Linked DNA regions of Homo sapiens. The protein of the gene in region 1 interacts with the protein of each later gene in a pairwise test. Each region holds a gene or a part of one and is shown in the gene's direction. Other genes may lie near its edges.

Evidence for each region.
Region 2: the proteins of OSGIN1 (region 1) and ARNT2 interact in binary tests that used the Homo sapiens proteins (3 or more experiments, as listed by UniProt).
Region 3: the proteins of OSGIN1 (region 1) and SORBS3 interact in binary tests that used the Homo sapiens proteins (3 or more experiments, as listed by UniProt).

What each region holds. Positions count from the first base shown.
Region 1 is NC_000016.10:83,956,216-83,963,240, forward strand, and holds part of OSGIN1 (oxidative stress-induced growth inhibitor 1), read left to right. Parts: intron 1-1,424; 5' UTR 1,425-1,456; coding exon 1,457-1,523; intron 1,524-3,044; coding exon 3,045-3,181; intron 3,182-4,353; coding exon 4,354-4,545; intron 4,546-4,765; coding exon 4,766-4,857; intron 4,858-7,025. UniProt on the Homo sapiens protein: Monooxygenase catalytic activity. Involved in regulation of cytokinesis; promotes RHOA activity, probably acting locally at the midbody in late cytokinesis.
Region 2 is NC_000015.10:80,470,357-80,477,381, forward strand, and holds part of ARNT2 (aryl hydrocarbon receptor nuclear translocator 2), read left to right. Parts: coding exon 1-75; intron 76-4,653; coding exon 4,654-4,867; intron 4,868-7,025. UniProt on the Homo sapiens protein: Transcription factor that plays a role in the development of the hypothalamo-pituitary axis, postnatal brain growth, and visual and renal function. Specifically recognizes the xenobiotic response element (XRE).
Region 3 is NC_000008.11:22,568,902-22,575,926, forward strand, and holds the end of SORBS3 (vinexin), read left to right. Parts: intron 1-246; coding exon 247-372; intron 373-2,008; coding exon 2,009-2,320; intron 2,321-2,816; coding exon 2,817-2,920; intron 2,921-3,438; coding exon 3,439-3,545; intron 3,546-5,765; coding exon 5,766-5,827; 3' UTR 5,828-6,887; downstream 6,888-7,025. UniProt on the Homo sapiens protein: Vinexin alpha isoform promotes up-regulation of actin stress fiber formation. Vinexin beta isoform plays a role in cell spreading and enhances the activation of JNK/SAPK in response to EGF stimulation by using its third SH3 domain.

The sequences.
Region 1 (7,025 bases):
CTCCTCGGGACCTGCCTGGAGGTGGACGAAGGTGTTTCTGTCACCCTGCACACATCAGAGGCCACACACTGGTCTCAGCTGTGTTTGGTTGGCCTTTTAAGCATCTTCCAAAACTCTGCGTTCATTCATTGCCCACTTCTTCAACTCAGATCATTCACATAGAAATCCAGATTCCCACTTTCTCTGGAAGAATTCTGGAGGCAGGTGGCCCTGGGCCCCCACCCCTGGCCACTCTGGGTGGTCCAAGCCCTGTGCCCGCCCACTTGAGTGTGACACCTGGATGGGCCCTGGATCTCGAGGGACAGGCCGAGTGGTGTGGGTGGTGGCACTGGCAGGGTCTTGGCACCAGTGAGCCCTGGGTTTCAAAGCCAGCTGTGTGACACTGAGAAGTTTGTGCGACCTCTCTGAGCCCCGTTTACACATCTGTGAAATGGGACATTAATATGGCCAGGGCTGCACAGGGTCAGCGTGAGGCGGATATGAGAAAAAGCATGTCAAATACCCGGTACACAGTAAGTGCCAAATGCTCATCATCCCTGTGCCCACAAGGGTGTTGCCTTGTGGTCCTCAGGATGGCAGCATGTGGCCCTCGGGTGAGGCTGGTGTCCGCTGCTAGCTGGTGTGGGGAAGAAGGTAGGTCTGATGCTCCTCTGGGAACCGGCAGCTCTAGGACCAGCACTTGGGTCCCTTTGAGCGATTTGGGCCTGCGGCCAGCAGAGGGCGCGGCTGCCCCAGAGATGGCAGGTTCACCAGCACGTCCCCAAACCTGGCCACTGCTTCCATTTCCCCAAGTCCATCCCAGCTCCTGGGGCAGGCCACAGCGCTGGCCCATTCCCTGTGGCAGATTCACTCCAGGCAGGTGCTTCCCGTCTGTGATCCTACTGTGTCCCTCAACCACCCTAGGAGGTAGGGACTCATTGCTTCCATTTTACAGATGAGGAAACTGAGACCCAGAGAGGCCCGGGAATGGGATAGGAAGCAACGTGCCAGGGCTGGATGACGAGTCCACCAGGCCACACTGGGACTCGAGGACTGTGGCCCACAGAAGGGTCTGGCAGGGCTGGTTCCTGGGTTGGGCAGGAATGGCCTCTCGGGAAGACAGATAATGAGTTTCGGGGACTGTTACTGCCCCAGTGAGATGGGAGAGTAGAGTGAGGCTCGGAGGGACAGTGGCTGCCTGGGGCAACCAGGCCCGAGGAGGGGAGGGCACATTCTGCATGACTGGGGAGGGGTGGGGCAAACAGCCTGTTTGGAGCAGAGGCTGTGTGAGAGCAAGAAGGGAGTCCCGTCAGATATGTCTCATGGGGACCCCGGACCAGACCCTGAGGGCCACAGGAGGCCACCCTAGCTGGGAGGTGAAGTGGCTGTGTGGACACCCAGGCCTCACCCGAATGGACTCTTCCTTCCCCTCTCCCCCACTCCAGGTCCGCTGCCAGCCCCAAGCCCCCCACCAGCCATGAGCTCCTCCAGAAAGGACCACCTCGGCGCCAGCAGCTCAGAGCCCCTCCCGGTCATCATTGTGGGTGAGTGTCAGGCCCCAGCCAGGGAGGGGCTCCGCTGAGCCTTCCGGGTACCCCCCAGGTCTGAGGGCAGGAGCTGGGCAAGTCCAGGCCTGGTGTCTTTTTTCGTTTTTGGGGTTTATTTTTTATTTATTTATTTATTTATTTATTTATTTATTTGAGACAAAGTCTCACTCTGTCGCCCAGGCTGGAGTGCAGTAGTGCAATCTTGGTTCACTGCAACCTCTCCCTCCCGGGCTCAAGCGATTCTCCTGCTTCAGCCTACCAAGTAGCTGGGATTACAGGTGCATGCCACCATGCCCAGCTAACTTTTGTATTTTTAGTAGAGATGGGGTTTCGCCATGTCGGCCAGGCTGGTCTCGAACTCCTGACCTCAAGTGATCTGCCTGCCTCAGCCTCCCAAAGTGCTGGGATTATAGGTGTGAACCACCATGCCTGGCCCAGGCCTGGCCTCTTTACAGTGGTCTTTAAATTAAGCCATTGAGCGTTTACTATGTGGCCAGTGCTAGGCTTAGCAGTTTATAAGCTATCATTCCCTTTCACACTTCCGAGAACCCAGGGGTCTAGAACACACCCATCAGCTGGAGGCGACCCGGCGTGGCGCAGGGAGGCCTGGTCCTGAGCCCACACTGATCCCATGACTACCCTGTGCCCAGCACTGTGCTAGGTGCCCACATGAGAGGACACACAGTAGCGGCTTATGATTCCTGTCCTCTGTCTGCACAAATGGGGACAGATGACCCCCCAGTATGCAGGCGTCCGATTAAGCCACGTGAGATGGTCATTTCTGTAAGGCAAAAGCAGATGGGTGCCTGTGATTTCATATGGTTCTTCCTGGTATCCTGCATATGAGTAATATTCCGAATCAGACGAGATAAGAAGAGGGGAAAGGACAGATAAAAAGAGAAGCGCTATCACAGGGCTGTGCCTGGTGAATCGCCCAGGAAGCGCCACAGATGGCAGCGCAGTTCTTCAGACGTGCAAGCAGCAGACCCAACAGGCGGCTCAGCACCCCTGAGCGCCCACAAGCACCCACCACTCAAGTTCGCCCCCAGGCCACGTAGCAATCTGTGCTACATTCACTCATCCATCTGACCTAGTTCTTAGCAATCTCAGAATCTCAGTCGCGTCGTCAGATATTCCCTCTGTCTGGGTTTTAATCCCGGCTCGTCTACCTTCCGGCCGTGTGACCACAGGCAAGTAACTTAACCTCTCTGTGCCCATTTCCTCAAGTATAAAAGGAGGAAAAGAGTGGCACTTACCTCGCTAAAGCTGTTGTGAGGCTGTTGTGAAAGCTCTCAGTACAATTCCTGGCACAGAGTAAGCTCTCAGCAGTTGTTCATTCCTTCTTTTTAAAAGTATTATTAGGCACAGTGTCTGGCACAGGCTAAGGGCTTAATAAATATTTATTTTTATGAATGAAGGATAAATGAATGAATGCGCCGCATCTAGATCAAAGCCCTCCACAGTAGTGTCCCCCACCTGAAAAGGCCACCCCCTTTAACCTCCACCCTCTCTCCCCAGGTAACGGCCCCTCTGGTATCTGCCTGTCCTACCTGCTCTCCGGCTACACACCCTACACGAAGCCAGATGCCATCCACCCACACCCCCTGCTGCAGAGGAAGCTCACCGAGGCCCCGGGGGTCTCCATCCTGGACCAGGTGGGTCAGCCTGGGGCCAGAGCTCTGGGTAGTACATACCCGCCCTTGGAAAACTACCGCCGCTTTCCCAGGGAAAAACAAAAGTGTGTGTTTGCTGGAAACAAGACTAAACAAAGAATTCGAGAGTCCACAAAGTCAGCCACGGAGATCGTGAAAGAGAAATCAGAGACCCACAAATGCCACACGATCTAGGGCTCACTATGCCCTAGGCCGGTTGTTCTCAAGGAGGGGATGATTTTTCTCCTCGGGGGGCACCTGGCAATGTCTGGAGACAATTTGGGTTGTCATGGCAGGGTGACGGTACTACCAAATCTAGCAGGGTGGAGGCCAGGGATGCTGGCAAACATCCAGCACTGCACAGGACAACGAGGGTGGTGAGACTGAAATATGTGTGGTGGAGCTTCTCAACCTTGGCCCCACTGACATTTGGATGACTTTGTTCTGGCTACAAAGAATGATCTGGCTCAAATGTCAGTGCGGCCAAGGTTGAGAAACTCCACCACAGATATTTCAGTCCCACTACCTCCTGCCCACAAGGGTTTGCAAATCCTCCCTCCGTACCCCTTGTCTTCCACTGTGCTCCTCCACGACCTCCCCTTGTCGACCTCCCTCGTCAGGCAGTGTACATCCTCCTGTTCCCTTCCCGCCCCTGAGTTGGAGATGAGGAAATAGGTCTTGACCATTTGATCTAGATCAGCATTTTTCAAAGTGCTCTCTATAGAATACTAGTTCCTCAGTATAATATAGAGAGAAAAATGTCCCCACTCCAGTAAAACAGGGACACACTGGGTTTGGCAAAATTAAACAGGTAAATGATGGCTGCAGGACTTGTCAGAGCCTTTAATATGCCCGTCTGTGTTATCTGCTGTTAAGAGGCAGCACCTCCCAAGCTGATCTGACCACACTGATATTAGGGTAGGGATGTAGGACCAGGCAATCGCTCCAGTCTCACCCAAGCTTGCGCATTTGGTCTGTACTCTGGGGCCCTTGGCCTCCTAGAAAGACCTCAAAACGAGAGCTTCAAACTACCCCCAGGGTGCGCATCTCTCTGAGACCCTCCAGTGCCAGGGAAATGGCCCGGCCCCAGTCCCCACGTTCCTGCCCAGCCTCAGGCTCTGGGAAGACGACCCCGCCCTCCTCCAGCAGCCCCTCTGACCTATGCCCCCCTCCAGGACCTGGACTACCTGTCCGAAGGCCTCGAAGGCCGATCCCAAAGCCCCGTGGCCCTGCTCTTTGATGCCCTTCTACGCCCAGACACAGACTTTGGGGGAAACATGAAGTCGGTCCTCACCTGGAAGCACCGGAAGGAGCACGCCATCCCCCACGTGGTTCTGGGCCGGAACCTCCCCGGGGGAGCCTGGCACGTGAGTGGGGCAGCGAGGGCATGGCTTGTGGGGGGCTCTCTCCCTCGTTCTCCCCACTTGGGGCTGGGACTCTGGCATCTCCCTTTCCTCATTCTCCACCCCGCAACCCTGCCTCTCCCTCCTCCCTCTACCCAGCCCCAGCAAAGGCCTCCCATGCCCTCTAGCCCCAAATGGGTTCAGGCGAGCAGAGGCCTGGACCAAAGGGTTCCTTTCCCTGCAGTCCATCGAAGGCTCCATGGTGATCCTGAGCCAAGGCCAGTGGATGGGGCTCCCGGACCTGGAGGTCAAGGACTGGATGCAGAAGAAGCGAAGGTGAGGCCGCCCCGGAACGCCTTGGGGGACACGGAAGGTTGGGCCTGTGAACCCAGAAAATCTGAGACAGGTCTCAGTTAATTTAGAAAGTTTATTTTTCCAAGGTTGAGGACGCGCCCGTGACAGCCTCAGGAAGTCCTAATGACATGTGCCCAAGGTGATCCGGCACAGCTTGGTTTTATACATTTTAGGGAGACATGAGACATCAATCAATATTTGTAAGAAGTACATTGGTTCGGTCTGGAAAGCTGGGCCAGCTTGAAGCAAAGGCAGGAAGTGGGGAGGGGGCTTCCAGGTCGCAGGTAGGTGAGAGATAAACAGTTGCATTCTTTTGAGGTTCTGATGAGCCTCTCCAAATGAGGCGATCAGATACGCATCTATCTCAGGGAGCAGAGGGGTGACTTGGAATGGAATGGGAGGCAGGGTGGCCCTCAGCAGTTCTCAGCTTGACTTTTCCCTTTAGCTTAGTGATTTGGGGGATTTCACAGGCCCCCCACAGTGAGCCCGTGAGCCAGAGGTACAGGGGCTTCAGAGTGCATCTGGTCTGTCTTCCTCTTCTTCCAGAGGGGGAAACTGAGGCTCAGATAGGGAAAGGACTTGTCCACCCCACATGAGTGGGGGTGAGCAGCAGAGCTGGGCTCACCCGAGGACCCCCTGTCCCGTGCAAGCAGCAGACCGCCCTGTCACATGGCCCCCAACTGGGCCTCCCCATAGTGCCCCAGCCTCTAAGGAGGGGGTAACACCTGGCCCCTGAGCCCCACGCCCTGCCCCGTGCCTCTGGCACAGGTCCCCCAGTCCTTGTGGTCTCCCTTCAGCCCTTTCCTCTATTCTGAGCCTGGCCTAGAACAATCTTTCTGGGTCAGCTAATAGGGTGACTTTCTTTTTTCTTTTCTTTTTTTTTTTTTTAATGCTTTTGCTACAGGTGAGTTTCATCCTTAACCATGAGCCCCCAAGTTGGGTAAATTAACTCACCTAAGGTCATGCAGGTTATTGGAAATGCAGAAGGAAAACAGCTCACCCCAAACCCACACTTCTCCACGCCCTTTCACTCCTGGGGTATTTTTTCCCCATCTGGCTTCCTGCCCCATCATGGCCACCCTAGAGAAAAGGTTTGTGAACCCTGAATATTTGAGATGGGTCTCAGTTAATTTAGGAAGTTTTGTTTGTTTATTTGTTGTTTGTTTTTAATGAAGTCTCCCTCTGTCGCCCAGGCTGGAGTGCAGTGGCGCGATCTCAGCTCACTGCAAGCTCCGCCTCCCAGGTTCAAGCCATTCTCCTGCCCCAGCCTCCCGAGTAGCTGGGACTACAGGTGCCCACCACCACACCCGGCTAATTATTTTTTGTATTTTTAGTAGAGACGGGGTTTCACCGTGTTAGCCAGGATGGTCTCGATCTCCTGATCTCGTGATCCGCCCACCTCGGCCTCCCAAAGTGCTGGGATTACAGGCGTGAGCCACCACGCCAGGCTAATTTAGGAAGTTTAATTGCCAAGGTTGAAGACGCACAACCATGACACAGCCTCAGGAGGTCCTGATAACATGTACACATGGTGGTCGGGGCACAGCCTGGCTGTATACGTTAGGGAGACTTGAGACATCAATCACTATATGTAAGATGGACATTGGTTCCGTCCAGAGGCGGGACAACTCCAGCAGGGAGGGGTGTTTCCAGGTCTCAGACAGGTGAGAGACAAACGGTTGCATTCTTTCGAGTTTCTTATAAGCCTTTCCAAAGGAGGCAATCAGGTGTGCATTTATCTCAGTGGGCAGAGGGAAGACTTTGAGTAGGACGGGAGGCAGCTTTGCCCTAGGCAGTTCCCTGCTTGACTTTTCCTTTAACTTAGTGATTTGGGGGCCCCAAGATTGATTTGCCTCTCACAGTTTCAATCACTGAATAAAGGAGTTCTAGTCCCTGCTCCTCCTGGGGTGCATCCACTCAATGAGAAGCTGCCCCAGCGCAGATACCTGGGTGCAGTCTGCCTCTCGGGAAGCCCTGCTTCCTCCGCCCCCAGGGCTGTGACCAGGCCTGTGTCCCCAACGGCAGGCACTCCAGGCGTCCCCCTCCAGGCCTCACTATCTCTTTGATGCGAAGACTCTTCTGCATGTTTGGCAGGAAGACTTCCAGGTTTGTGTAGCTACATGTTAGTAGGCAGCCAGAAACTTACATTT
Region 2 (7,025 bases), on another chromosome or scaffold:
CACATGAAGTCCATGAGGGGTACAGGGAACAAGTCCACCGATGGCGCGTACAAGCCTTCCTTCCTCACAGAGCAGGTACCCTGGTCATCACATCACCATTGGAAAGCGGGGGGAATCCCAGCGTCACCAAGACGAAATAAACTACGTGGGGAACCAGGGCTCAAGGTTGAGGAAGGAATGAAGCCAACATGTTTTGTTTCCATTTTTCTCCAAGAAGCTGTCTTCAAAAGAGGGTTTGTCTGATCTTTGGGTCTTCTGCTTTTATGTTTCCCATAACCTTAATGGGATGTCACTCAAAAAAATATATTGAGCATTTGAACATCGTGCTCAGCACACTGACACAGGAAGAAGTTAGTAAAAACGCTGTATGCTGGAATTGTGCTGATATGATCAGCCTATGAAAGTGATGGTATATGAAAAAATCTCCACATCACTGATCATTAGAGAAGTGCAAATCAAAACCACTATGAGATACCATCTCACTCCAGTCAGAATGGCTATTACTAAAAAGTCAAAAAGTAACAGATGCTAGTGAGGTTGCAGAGAAAAGGGAACACTTATACACTGCTGGTGGGAGTGTAAACTAGCTCAACCATTGTAGAAAGCAGTGTGGAGGTTCCTCAAAGAGCTAAAAACGGAAATACCATTTGACCCAGCAACCCCATTACTGGGTTTATACCCAAGGGAATATAAATCGTTCTACATAAAGACATATGCTTACGTATGTTCATTGCAGCACTATTCACAATAGCAAAGACATGGACTCAACATAAATGTTCATCAATGACAGATTGGATAAAGATAATGTGGTACATATACACCATAGAATACTACACAGCCATATAAAAGAATGAGATCATGTCCTTTGCAGGAACATGGATGGAGCTGGAGGCCACTATCCTTAGCAAACTAATGCAGGAACAGAAAACCAAATACCACATGTTCCCACTTGTAAGTGGGGGCTGAATGATGAGAACACATGGACACAAAGAGGGGAACAACAGACATTGGAGCCTCCTAGAGGATGGAGGTTGGGAGGAGGGAGAGGATCAGAAAAAATAACTAATGGGTACTGGGCTTAGGATCTGGGTGATGAAATAATTTGTATAACAAATTTTCGTGACATGAGTTTACTCCCTTGGCAGTACGTAACAAACCTGCATGTGTACCCCTGAAAAAAGTTAAAGAAAAAAGACAGTGATGGCAGCAGTAGTGATAATAGTAGCCGCGATCAGAGCACTTAGCCGGCCGGCATTTGCTGGGTGCCTGGTGTGAGTCATAGTTTTCTGTGAAATATCTCATTTACTACTTATTCTAGCCCTGTGAAGAAGCCACTGTTATTTAGCTCTGTTTTATTGATGAGGAAGCTGAGGCTTAGAGTCAGCAGATTGCTCAGGGTTAATCTGCTGCTTAGTGGAGGAGCCAAGATTGGGTCCAGTGAAGACAGGCTGGTAGGACCCCAAAGCCATATTTTTAACACCTACACTAGTCTTTGACTAGTTGGCAAGAAGAAACGCACAAAATGGCTAGTGAGGTCGTATTTTATAAGTGGCTTTACATGAGCCAGAGGCCTGTGTTCAGGGTCTTTGTATTTCCATGTGCTGGTCATAGGGCAAGTTGGCAAATACTCTAAGCTTCAGTGTGCTCATCTGTGAAATGAACATAAAGCTTTTTGCTTTCCTGTCTCCAAGAGCTTTTGCAGGATAAATGAGGTGATGGATTTGAAAGCACTTCATTGTGTATAGCCGGTGGGGGGGCATTGGGGTGGGGAGGTGAAATAATACAGTTGTCAGGGCATGCAGTTAGGAAATGCAAAAGTATGTAGGGTATAGGGTCCTAAAAGTAATGGAGGATTTAACAAGACACAGCGTGTGGCCAAGCTGAAATAGAGTGGAAGTGTCCTGGTATTATCAAGAGGGACTTCTCAGGACAGAGACAGTATTGGCATAGAAAGGAGCCACAAAAAATACCTAGAAAGAGGGGAGCAGAAGGGATTTCACAAAAAGGGAAGAGTGTGTACAGAACCTCACAGGCAGGAATGAAAAAGATTTTGTTGGGAGACCTAATGATTTATTCTGCTAGAGCCGAGACTCGATTTATGTCATGGAAGTTAGGTTTAAAAAGAATAAGGGATGAGGAACTAACGTTTATTACTGTCTGTTCTGTGGCAGACACTTTAGCAAGCACTTCACCTATTTGATCCCTTTCTAAATCATCCCAGTGGTCATGGGAGCCCTCGCTTGGCAGATGTTAGGAAGGTCCAGCAGTGGTAATATGTGCCACTTGGAGGACACAAACTGTGGTGGTCAGGGCAGGAGCTTCAAGCCTCATTTCCACCTCTGTAAAAATAAATGCAGTGATAGCTCCCAGCTCGTGTGGTTGTGGTGAGGAAGGCAACAAGCATAGACTGTTTAACATGGGCCTGAGGTATAATGAAGGGTAAATAGCTGGTAAGTAACAGACAGAAATTATTGAGCACTACTGGCTGCTAGAATCAGTTTTTTGTCTATATTTTTTTAATCCTCACCAAAAGACCTACAGAGTCAAGGTTTGAAATGAATCTCGTTATCTTTAAGTGACTGAGGATTATGAAAGTGGCGTGAAGAGAGAAGGCAGCTATGCAGGTCAGATGAGCCCTACCTTTGTTCCTCTCTCAGCTGCTTGGATGGTGATGATAATGGTTACATTTATGGAGCACCTACTGTGTGCCAGGCCCTTACTAAGTCCTCACACACAGCATCTCATTTAACCTTGCAAGAGCTCACTGAAAAACATTGCTGAGGGCGTGAAGTAACATGCCCAAAGTTGCACAGCTAAGTGGGAGAGCGGTAGGTGATAGTCTCCTTTTACTCCAGAATACATGCTCTTAACCGTGACTGTTTTCTTGGAGTGTAGAGGCTGGTTCTGGATCAGGGCACAGGAACTTGGTAGTGATAGATGGTCTCCCAGGGAATACACATCAGGGAGGAGGGTGGAAAAAAGAGGGTCCGTGATGCGAGCAGGGCTTCATCCCATAAGACCTCCCCACAGTCTTTGCAAACTGGACAAAAATGTGAATTCATGAGTAAAGTCATTCAGTCTCCACTTCCTCTCCTCCAGTGACAAAGAATTCTGTACTTCCCCAGGCACCCTCTTCCGTTTTTAATTCTCTTAACAGCTCTTTCTGTTGGGAAGATCATCCAAAAACTGAAAATAAAAATGCTGACCGAATTCCCTGAACTAATTAAGCATCTAGGTGACGCAGAACAGCAAAAGTGCAAAGCAAGAGAAATGGGCAAAATAAACTTATCCTTAAAAAATGCTTGTACCAACTGCTTCTGCCCTGGTTTCCCAGGCAGAGGATGTTAGAATTCCTCCCCAGCCAAGGGCTTAGACACATTTACAAAGCTCCCTGGGTTCTGCTCATCAGCATATCAATGTTCCCTAGTCTCTGGGTCCTTGTACCCTGCTCAGTTACTGGGATTTGGGGCGCCAGACTCTCCACCTTTTGCCTTCACTCTGCTGGCTGTCCATGTGCTTTACAGTGGGGTTTTCACATAAGATTACATTCAAACAAAAGATTGCCAGCCAAAAGATGTTTGCTAGCTGCTGACCTAGAAGGATACCTTTGTCCTCTGGAGCCTGAACAGTACTTGAAGTGGTTGGAAGGGTGGCCATGGATTACAGTGTCTAGGGAAGACTTAGTGCCTGGCTCCTGCAGGCACAAAGCCCATTTCATTCAGTGGCAAAGGGCTCCTTAGCTTGATGTGAGAATAGTATGGGCAACTATACTTGAGCTGCCTTCAGGCGCTGCAAAGAAAAGACATCTTGTTTTAACAAAGTTAATTTTGCCCCATCCACGTCCTTCTGAGGATAATATCAAGGCTTCCTGCTGCCCCTTCCTTGATCCCAGTTTCCTCCCTGCCTTCAATGACAGTCATGACCCCAATGAATCAATGTGAGCTGAAGGTTGATGCTCCTATCCTCTTCTCACTGTAAAGTGATATGGATAATGCTGTATTCCCTGCTGCCTCCCAGAGTTACTCTGAGAGTCTTTTGAGATGATGGTGATTATTGTCAGTTCTGGAAATCTGACAGAAATGCAAATGTAAGGGGATACTCTTATAGCCAGTGCCAGCATTCAGCTCAGAAATATGGAAAGAGAAAAGGAACAAGAGGGTACTTTCAGTACGGCAAGCTGTGGGTGGGGAGACACGTGGTCTCTTTCGTTCTCCCTTCTCACCTTCCCCTTCCCCTTCCCTTCCTTCTATCTAGCACCTTTTGTGCCAAGCACTATGTGTTGGGCCCTTCTGCTCCAATGACATGACTACAGTTTCAATATGTGGCAAAGCTGTTCACGCCTCTGGCAACCCAGTACCTTCTGGTGATCACTCATTGCTCTCCCATCCCCCTAGGCTGGAAATTTTCTCTCCCCAACAAAGGACTAATGAAGATGGGCTAACCGTGTTTACAGTAGCTGTATCGTAGGGATGGTGCAAGCTTTGTGCATTTTTCTAGCTTATTTTCCAGAAACAAAGTTCTCATTTCCCAAACTATTTGTGTACCAGAATAAATATGCAGATAAAGGAAATTGAAGGCTGCTTTCCCAATAAGAAAGTTGAATCATCCTGGGTCTGTCAGTGTATTGTGCCAATCATAATCTTTTCTTTATAGGAACTGAAGCATCTCATCCTTGAAGCAGCTGATGGATTTCTGTTTGTGGTGGCTGCTGAGACAGGGCGAGTGATTTATGTGTCTGACTCCGTCACCCCTGTTCTGAACCAGCCCCAGTCAGAGTGGTTTGGGAGCACACTGTATGAACAGGTGCATCCTGATGACGTGGAGAAGCTGAGAGAGCAACTGTGCACCTCAGAAAACTCAATGACAGGTCAGTGGAGCTCCCTTTATGAGGCTGTTTGACTCTAGAAAACATTCTTGGCTGGGCATGGTGGCTCACGCCTGTAATCCCAGTACTTTGGGAGGCTGAGGCGGGTGGATCACGAGGTCAGGAGATCAAGACCATCCTGGCTAACATGGTGAAACCCCGTCTCTACAAAAAATACAAAAACAAAAAATTTGCCAGGCGTGGTGGTGGGCGCCTGTGGTCCCAGCTACTCCGGAGGCTGAGGTGGGAGAATGGCATGAACCTGGGAGGCAGAGCTTGCAGTGAGCCAAGATTGTGCCACTACACTCCAGCCTGGGTGACAGAGTGAGACTCTGTCTCAAAAAAAAAAAAAAAAAAAAATTATTTTAGTAAACAGGCCAGGAAACTGGAGGCCATAAAAAGCTGCCTAAAGGTGAGGGAATATATGTGAGTTGGCCTGTGTGATAGCTTCATTCATTCGATAACATTTAAAAATCCATTTTTACTACATCACATTTTTCTGTATTTTACCTGCAATTAGTATACATTACCACTAGAGGTTGTCGTTGATATATTAGCCAGATCCATATGCCCTGTTTGAAGTTTATCCAATAAGCATGTGATTTTCTGTGATCCTGACCATAAACATTCATTACCCAGGCCTTAGTTACCTGAAATCTAGTTCCTTATTGAAATGTTTAAATATAGTCAATTCTACTCATACATGTTTCTAAAAATCACTGCAGTATACACAATCATGCAATTCAAAACTATAGGGCTTATCGAGAAAAAGTGGTTTAGAAGAACAACACTCAATAATTTGTCAGATAAAAGCAAAAATAAAAACCTATTATAAATGGTAGCACAGCTTTAACATTAAGTGGTTAAGAAATGTATACATCTTACCACACATATGGCAGTTGAGTTTGAAAATGACCTAAAGTTTGCTTAAGAGGTGGTCTCAGAAGGTGTGGTCATTTGTATGTTATTGCGAAATGGTAGGAGGACAGTCATGTGAAATCAGACGGAGAGTTTTAACTCCAAATGTGGATGAGTGTGGCTAATAACACACCGTGGGCCGAGAGAGCTGACTGATGTCTGAGGTATGTGAATTTTGTGTATTTCCGTGTGGCCCGGTTCAGCTAGGCACAACCTTTCTATGTTCATCTAGTTTTTCTTACAGATAAGCAAACACAACATTCACATTATGCTCAGATTGTTCCTTAATATGTCAATCACATTGGAACAAATTTGCATTGTTGAAACAAGAGTTATAGAAGCATTATACCAAAATATTTGCATTCTGCTCTATGACAGATATATTTGTGTTGTCATTCTCCCTGACCATATTGTGAGCTGTTGTATTCCCACTTGCTTTTGTGTCTGCCCACAGTGCTAAACTCAGTGCTTTGCCCATAGTAGGCCTTCAGCAGAAGCCTGATGAATTAGTGAGTGTGTTGTTTATTGTGGTCAGCCTAGGATGCCATAACAAAATACCACAGAATGGGTTACTTAAATAACAGAAATGTATTTTCTCATAGTTCTGGAGGCTGGGCATTCAGTGTCCTAATCCATTTGGGCTGCTATAACAAAATACAATAAACCGAATAGCTTTTATGTAACAGAAATTCATTTCTCACTGATATGGTTTAGATCTGTGTCCTCACCCAAATGTCATGTTCAATTGTAATTCCCAATGTTGGGGGCAGGCCCTGATGGGAGGTGATTGGATCATGGGGGTGGGTTCGCCTGAATGGTTTAGTACCATCCTCTTGGTCCTGCTCTCGTGATAGTGAGTGAGTTCTCACAAGATCTGGTTGTGTGTAGTACCTTCCCACTCTCTCTCTTAAGAGTTCCTGCTTCTGCCATGTAAGACACCTGCTTCCCTTCACCTTCCGCCATGATTGTAAGTTTCCTGAGGCCTCCTCAGAGGCCAAGCAGATATCAGCATCATGCTTTTTGTACAGCCTGCAGAATGGTGAGCCAATTAAACCTCTTTTCTTTGTGAATTACCCAGTCTCAGGTATTTGTTTATACAATGGGAGAACAGACTAATACAGTCAGAGTTCTAGAGGCTGGGAAGTCCAAGATCAAGGCACCTTGATGTCTGGCAAGGGCCTACTTTCTAGATGTTGCCTTCTAGCTGTGTCCTCACATGGTGGAAGGGACTAGCTATCTATCT
Region 3 (7,025 bases), on another chromosome or scaffold:
TAATGCCCACTCCATATATCCCTATGGAAAATTCTTCTTCCAGGGAGCGTTCCCAGACTCCTCCCCATCCTCCAGCACCCTTTGGCTGTGCCCACCCGTGGCTGCCCCCAGGGCTTGTGTCTGGTGTTTATATCTTTTCTCTGCCTAGGGGCGGGCCCACCTTCTCTTTGCTGTCTCACAGGAACCCCCAGCCTGTGCTATGTTGATGCCCAGGCCAAATCTTTCTCATGACCTTTCTTCATGCAGGTGCTGCCCGCAGATGAGATCCCTAAGCCCATCAAGCCCCCGACCTACCAGGTGCTGGAGTATGGAGAGGCTGTGGCCCAGTACACCTTCAAGGGGGACCTGGAGGTGGAGCTGTCCTTCCGCAAGGTGGGCCAGGCCGGAGACGGAGGGGTGGGTGGGGGCAGGTGAAGATGTAGGTAAATATGTGCACTAAAAACAGTTTTTTTTTTTTGAGACAGAGTCTCACTCTATCGCCAGGCTGTAGCGCAGTGGTGCCATCTCGGCTCACTGCAACCTCCGCCTCCCGGGTTCAAGCAATTCTCCTGCCTCAGCTTCCCGAGTAGCTGGGACTACAGGCACGCGCCACAACACCCAGCTAATTTTTGTATTTTTAGTAGAGACAGGGTTTCACGATGTTGGCCAGGATGGTCTCAGTCTCTTGACCTCATAATCCACCCGCCTCAGCCTCCTAAAGTGTTGGGATTACAGGCGTGAGCCACCGCGCCTGGCCTAAAAACACTTCTTTAAAAAAGAGTCCGATGTACCTAGCTTCACCCAGGATTTCAAAGTTTTCCCCAGTCTCTTTCATTATGCTTCCTTTAGTGTAGTGGCTTTTTTTTGCTTTTTTTTGAGACAGCATCTCACTATGTTGCCCGGGCTGACCTTGAACTCCTGGGCTCAAGCGATCCCCTGTCCCTGCCCCAGCCTCCCAAGTAATTTTGGTCCATTTTTAAAAGATCATCATAAACTTCTAGAGTTACATATATATTTTTTCAACTGCAGGTTGCAGGGGATCATACTCAGCATTTTTAAAGGTATAGACAGAAATGTTAGCATGCGTTGCGAGCAGAAAGCACTTTATCATACCGTAGGCAGTTCTGTGTATGCACATATATATGTATTCTGGGCTGTTATTAAAACATTTTTAACTGTAGATTGTGGTGAAACAAGTTTGAAAAATGCTGTTCTAGAAAGCAGGGAAGTGGTCTGCCTTTGGTTGATTTTGGGAGCAGTGATCATGCTCCCAAAATAAGCGAAAGACGGCCCATAGTGAATGCCTCCCAGAAGAGCTGGCCCCAGGGACAGAGGGGGAAGAAGGTGGCTGGATGGAGACAGATGGGGGCAGGAGAGGACAGGGGAAGGCAAGGGCTGGAGGCCACCCTCCCAGGGGGTGGTTCTACCTAATGTCAGCCAGCCTGTGGCCTTCAGGACTCCCTGCCTGTCCTGGGGAGTGTGTTTTTGACACGCTCATGACAAGGTCCCCCAGCGTGAGGCAGGAACAGGACCCAGGCAGGGCAGTAGTGGTAGCACCTGTCCAGTGTGTCTAAGGAGTGGACTGTTGATCTCGTTCACACCTCATAGTGACAGTATGGTTATTTTCACTTAACATAGGAGAAAACAAGGCTCAGAGAGACAGAGCAGGCTGCCTGAGGCCACACAGCTTGGCCTGGTGGAGCTGGGTTTGGATCTGTATTATTAGCCACGGGCTCACCTGTGATCGGAGCTCTGGGGAGGGACCTTGCTATGAACGCCGAAGGGGGATGCACACCCGTTGAGCTTCCAAGAGGCAGGACCCAGTCTCAGCCTCAGCCTTGCCTGGGCAGCCTGGGCTTGGCTCCTGGCTCCTGCTCTTACCGTGTGACTCGGGTAAACTGCTGGCCCCCTGCGATTCCGACCCCTCGTGTGTCCAAGGTGTTAGGGTTGAATGAGACAGCCCAGATAAGGCACCCGTGGGTCCATGGCACCAGGAAGGCCCCACAGACACTGACTTTTCCCCCCTCAGGGAGAGCACATCTGCCTGATCCGCAAGGTGAACGAGAACTGGTACGAGGGACGCATCACGGGCACGGGGCGCCAAGGCATATTCCCTGCCAGCTACGTGCAGGTGTCTCGTGAACCCCGGCTCCGGCTCTGTGACGACGGCCCCCAGCTCCCCACGTCTCCCCGCCTGACCGCTGCCGCCCGCTCAGCCCGTCACCCCAGCTCCCCCTCAGCCCTGCGCAGCCCAGCTGACCCCATCGACTTGGGGGGACAGACCTCCCCCCGTCGCACTGGCTTCTCCTTCCCCACCCAGGAGCCTAGACCCCAGACCCAGGTGAGGTAGCCTGCCTCCACCAGAGAGTCGACCTCCTCCTCACCCCTCATCCCCCACCCCCGTGACTTGTCCACACTTGGGACTCCTTCCCAGACAGCCCTGGGACATAGGAGTGGGGTGACAGGGCAGAAGCTAGTATGGCAGCCCCACCCTGGCCTGGGGGACCTCAACCTACCGAGCTCTAGCCGAGGGAGCTCTAGATGGAATCCCAAAGCCGGCCCAGGCTCCTGACCCTGGGTGTTCTTGGTTCATCCATGCTGGCGTCCAGAAACCCAGGCACTGACCTTACTTGGGCCTCAGTTTTCTGGCCCCTGTGAAATGAAATAGTCACAGCAGGTGTCCCTGTGCCCTGGGGGTTTGGAGGCTAAGATGAAGCCGTTTGTAAGGCGTGCTGGCAGGTGGACTGGGAACGCCCATTTTGGGCCTCCTCCCTCAGGCTTACATGTACCCATCGTCTTCCTCCCTCTGACATCCCTTTCTTCCTGTCAACTCCCAGAATCTTGGCACCCCTGGTCCAGCTCTGTCCCACTCTCGAGGTCCCAGCCATCCCCTGGACCTGGGGACCTCCTCTCCTAACACCTCTCAGATACACTGGACCCCGTGAGTACCATCTGAGGGCTCTTGATCAGACGTGGGGGGGGTCACTGGCAGGCAATGCCCCATATTCCACCCTCCCCCAAGTCCCCACCTGTGGATTTGGGAAACTTCTACCAGGTAGCCCTTGTCCTCGAAGAGCTTATGGTGATTTGGGGCAGGGAGGAGGCGCTGGTCTGTGATGTTCCCAATCCCTCCTGGCAGCTATGTGGCCTTGTGGCCTTGGTCTCCTCATTGGGTTTCTAGCCCTGAGGTCGGTGCATGTATAATTGAAGTGTGGAACTGGTGGAATGGACAGGAAGGCACCAGGTGCTCAGAGGAGGCGAGGGTTCAGTGCTTAGGGCCCAGAGGGCAGGAGGCAGGCCTGGGAAAGACTACGGTGAGCACAGGCTGAGTTGCTCTGAGGAGCTGGATCAGGGGCTAGTGAGAGCATGAAGGGACCCTGGGGCATTCACAGGAAGCGGCAACACTTGGGTTAGAGCCTCTGGGCCCATTCTCTGGTTGCCATGATACGCTTCTCGCAGGTACCGGGCGATGTACCAGTACAGGCCCCAGAACGAAGACGAGCTGGAGCTGCGCGAGGGGGACAGGGTGGATGTCATGCAGCAGTGTGACGATGGCTGGTTTGTGGGTATGTGGGCAGGCCGGGAGGGGGCATCTCAGGGCCCCAGGGGATGTGGGTGGGGTGCTGTTGCCTGCCAGTGCTGCTTCAGCAAAGATTCATGGCCGACCACCCCCCGACTCAGCTTCCGGCCGGGCTACTGGGGGGGCCTGGCACCCGATGCTTCCCCAAAGCCAGCCCTTCTGTTGGCTGCCTTCCTTCATGAAGAGGCCAAGGCCCAGGAGGAAACTGGCACCAGTCCAGGGTCACTGATGGAGTCAGTGGGGACCCAGGCCAGGGTTCCCAACGTCCAGAGCTCTGCCTCTTCCTCCTGCACACCCCTGCCTCGAGCAGCCCTGGGGGAGAGCTCCTGGTGGAAAGGACCAGGGCTCACACTTGACCTAGCTGGCTCCTCCAGCCTGGGAGGAAGAGGGAATGGAGAAAGGTCCCAGCCCCTCAGGGCTGGCCCAAGGGCAGCTCTGACCAAGGACAAATGCAGGAAGCCTCAGGTTGGCCTCAGCCTGAATCAAGGTGACCAACCCACCAGGCTTCACATGGCCTCTTTCCCCAGAGTGGGCGGGCCCTGTGCAGGTCTCATCTTCAAAGGATGGGCCGTCCCCAGAGAGAAGAGAGTGGCCAGAAGCCCCCTGCCCTGCCCCAAGCAGGCTTTGAAGCCTGAGGAGTTGGGGGGCTGCTTGGGCAGCCCCTTGACCTGGCAGCCCACCCTTCCTGATCTGATCCCAGTACAGCTGCCAGCCAGCTGTACTGACCCACCCAGGACCATTAAGCACTAGCCTGTGAATGGCCCCTACCTTCTAGTGGGGGAGGGAGGGAGGCGGTGCTTGGAGATGCATTCAAATTTACTGGATACACTTTTGCTTTGGAATTTTTTTACAACTACTAATAAAGTTTTGCAAACCTATGCAGACAAGAAGAAAAAGTACCACTTTTGTATTAGGAGCCACAAGCGCTTTGAGAGGAATGGGCGAGACCTGTGCCCTTTCCGGTATGGCAGCCACCGGCGGCATTCAGCTGTTGAAATGTAGCTCAAATGAAATAAATTAAAAATCCAGTTCCTCAGTTGCACAGGCACATCTCAAGTGCCCAACAGCCACAGGTGGCGAGTGGTGCCCATTTTAGTTAGTGCAGGTCAGGGAAGGCTTCCTGGAGGAAATGAGGGAGCTGGGCCTGGAAGGGCAGGGGAAGGATTTGGGGAGGCCAAGAGGAAAGGGAGGTACTCGGGGCAGAGGACGAGGGTGGGGGTGGGACGAGCACGGGCTGCCCCCAAGGAAGTCAGGGTGCCAGCCTGGAAGGGGAGGCCCAGGATCATCCATTCACCCAAGGTCAGGAGTGACGTTCATTTCAGTTTATATTCCTATTTTTCTATATATAGGAATATAATAATATTTATTACATTTCTGTATTTCTATATTTCTCCATTCCCTCTTCCTCCCAGGCTGGAGGAACCAGCTGGGGGGTGTGGGGATACACAGGTGTGAGCCCTGGTCCTTTCCACCAGGCGCTCTCCCCAAGGGCTGCTCCAGAGGCAGGGGTGTGCAGGGAAAAGGGGCAGGGCTCTGAAGGTCGGCAACCCCGGCCTGGGTCCCCAGTGACTCCATCAGTGACCCTGGGGTGGTGCCAGTTTCCTCCAGGGCGTCCTTCTCTTCATGGCACGAAGGAAAGCAGCCAACAGAAGTGCTGGCTTTGGGGAAGCATCGGGTGCCAGGCCCCCCAGATGCTTTGCCCGCTGGGGTTCCCCCCCCTCCTCCTCTTCAAGACACGAGTTTCTGTGGGGCTGAGAGGCCTGGATCGGAGTCCCAAGCTTACTCCTAAGCGTCGGGGTGCTCTCGGGCAATGCATTCAGCCTTCCCATAGGCCTTCCCACCCATCTCTAAGTGAGGGTGCCCTATTAGACCAGGGACGTTTCTCCCGATTTCAGTTCTGTGATTCCTCCTCCTGTGTCCCCACTTTGCGGAGGAGGGGGGGAGTGACTCTGCTGTGTACAGTGTGATGCACATTTGTTGATTGCTCAGATTCTTTGGTGGTTGAGTGTGGGAAGTGTAGCTTTGCCCATCTAAGCTTCTGCCGCTAGGGGGCAGGAAGGAGGAGAGCAAATCCAATTCCCTCTCTGGGCTCCCCTACAGAACTCCCCTACAGTTCTGGGCACTGCCGGCAGGGGGCAGGCCCTCACCCCTGCATCCCTGTTAAAGAAGGGAGTGGGGAAAGCTCTTCCTGCCTTTCCTCTTTCAGGTGTCTCCCGGAGGACCCAGAAATTCGGAACGTTCCCTGGAAATTACGTTGCCCCGGTGTGAGTGGTCTCCATGGCAACTTGGAGCCAGCCAGGATGGGGTGGGGAGCGGTGGCACTCGTGGGAGGGAGAGGACCCCCGCCCACATCCTCCTTCCCCAGGACCTGAGCTCCCAGCATCTGCAGACGACCCCCGCAGCCTTTCCCTCGGACCCCCCTCGAAGCCCCCTGGACTGATTCCCACCCACGACTCACAGGCATTCCTCCCACAGCCCTTTCATTTCCTCCCCACCCCACTCCCCAAATACAGAGGTCTGCTTTGAAGCGGAGACCATTTCCAGGCCTTATTGAGACCAGACCCCAAGTCCCCCACCCCCATCCTGCTCCAGCGTTTCCTCTAACAGGGACCAGCTCTCCGCTTTGCCCCCACGGGGTTCCTCTAACCAGAACCAGCTTCCTAGCCTCGTAGAGACCAAAGGCCGCCCCCGCCTGCTGGGGTTCCTCCCAGCACCCCAGCTTGCTGGCTGCCCTCTTTGCCTTCTGGCCTCCAGCTGGGTGTGGGGGGGCGGAGCAAGGCGGGGGACAGACGCAGCACCTTCTTAGCGATCTAGGCCTGGCAAGAGCTCTGGCCCCAAGGCCTCCTCTTCCCAGGGGCTGCCAAGTCCTGGCCCTGGCCCTGGCATATCACCCCGCACTGTGGGGCCAGGCACCACTAGCCTGGCTCAAATATTCCCCAGGGAGACTGCTGTGTGCTGCCCGCCTGCCTGCTGGCTCTCCCCCAGCCCCACATCCCCTCTGGAAGAGAATGTAAAATAAACCTGGACACAAGGGACCTTGTCTCTGCGGCCTTTTCCTTGGGGTAGGGGATGCCTCCTCCTGTCTAGGAGATGGGAATTCCTTCTGTGGAGGGCTGTGCTGGGAGACAGGTGGGACAGGTGTGTGTGTAAGAGGAGGAGGATGGAAAAACACCATTATTACCTCCAAAGATCTCTGCCCTTGGGTGTCAGGCAGGTTGCGGCAGCCCCCACAATTGGGCAGCTGTGTGGCAAGAAGTGCTGGGAGAATGAACAGTGCCAGGCCCTGGTAGCAGGGAGACACCAGAGATGGGGGACTGAATGTGGCCTTGTTTGCAGACTGTTTTGATTCTGGAGCTGCCACCGTGGGGTTGCTGGGCTAGATGACATTTCTAACTATTCTGCTGTTTTCCTTCTGTGTGCTCTGTTTCCACACCGAAGCCCTTGTGTGTGTGTGTGTGTGTGTGTG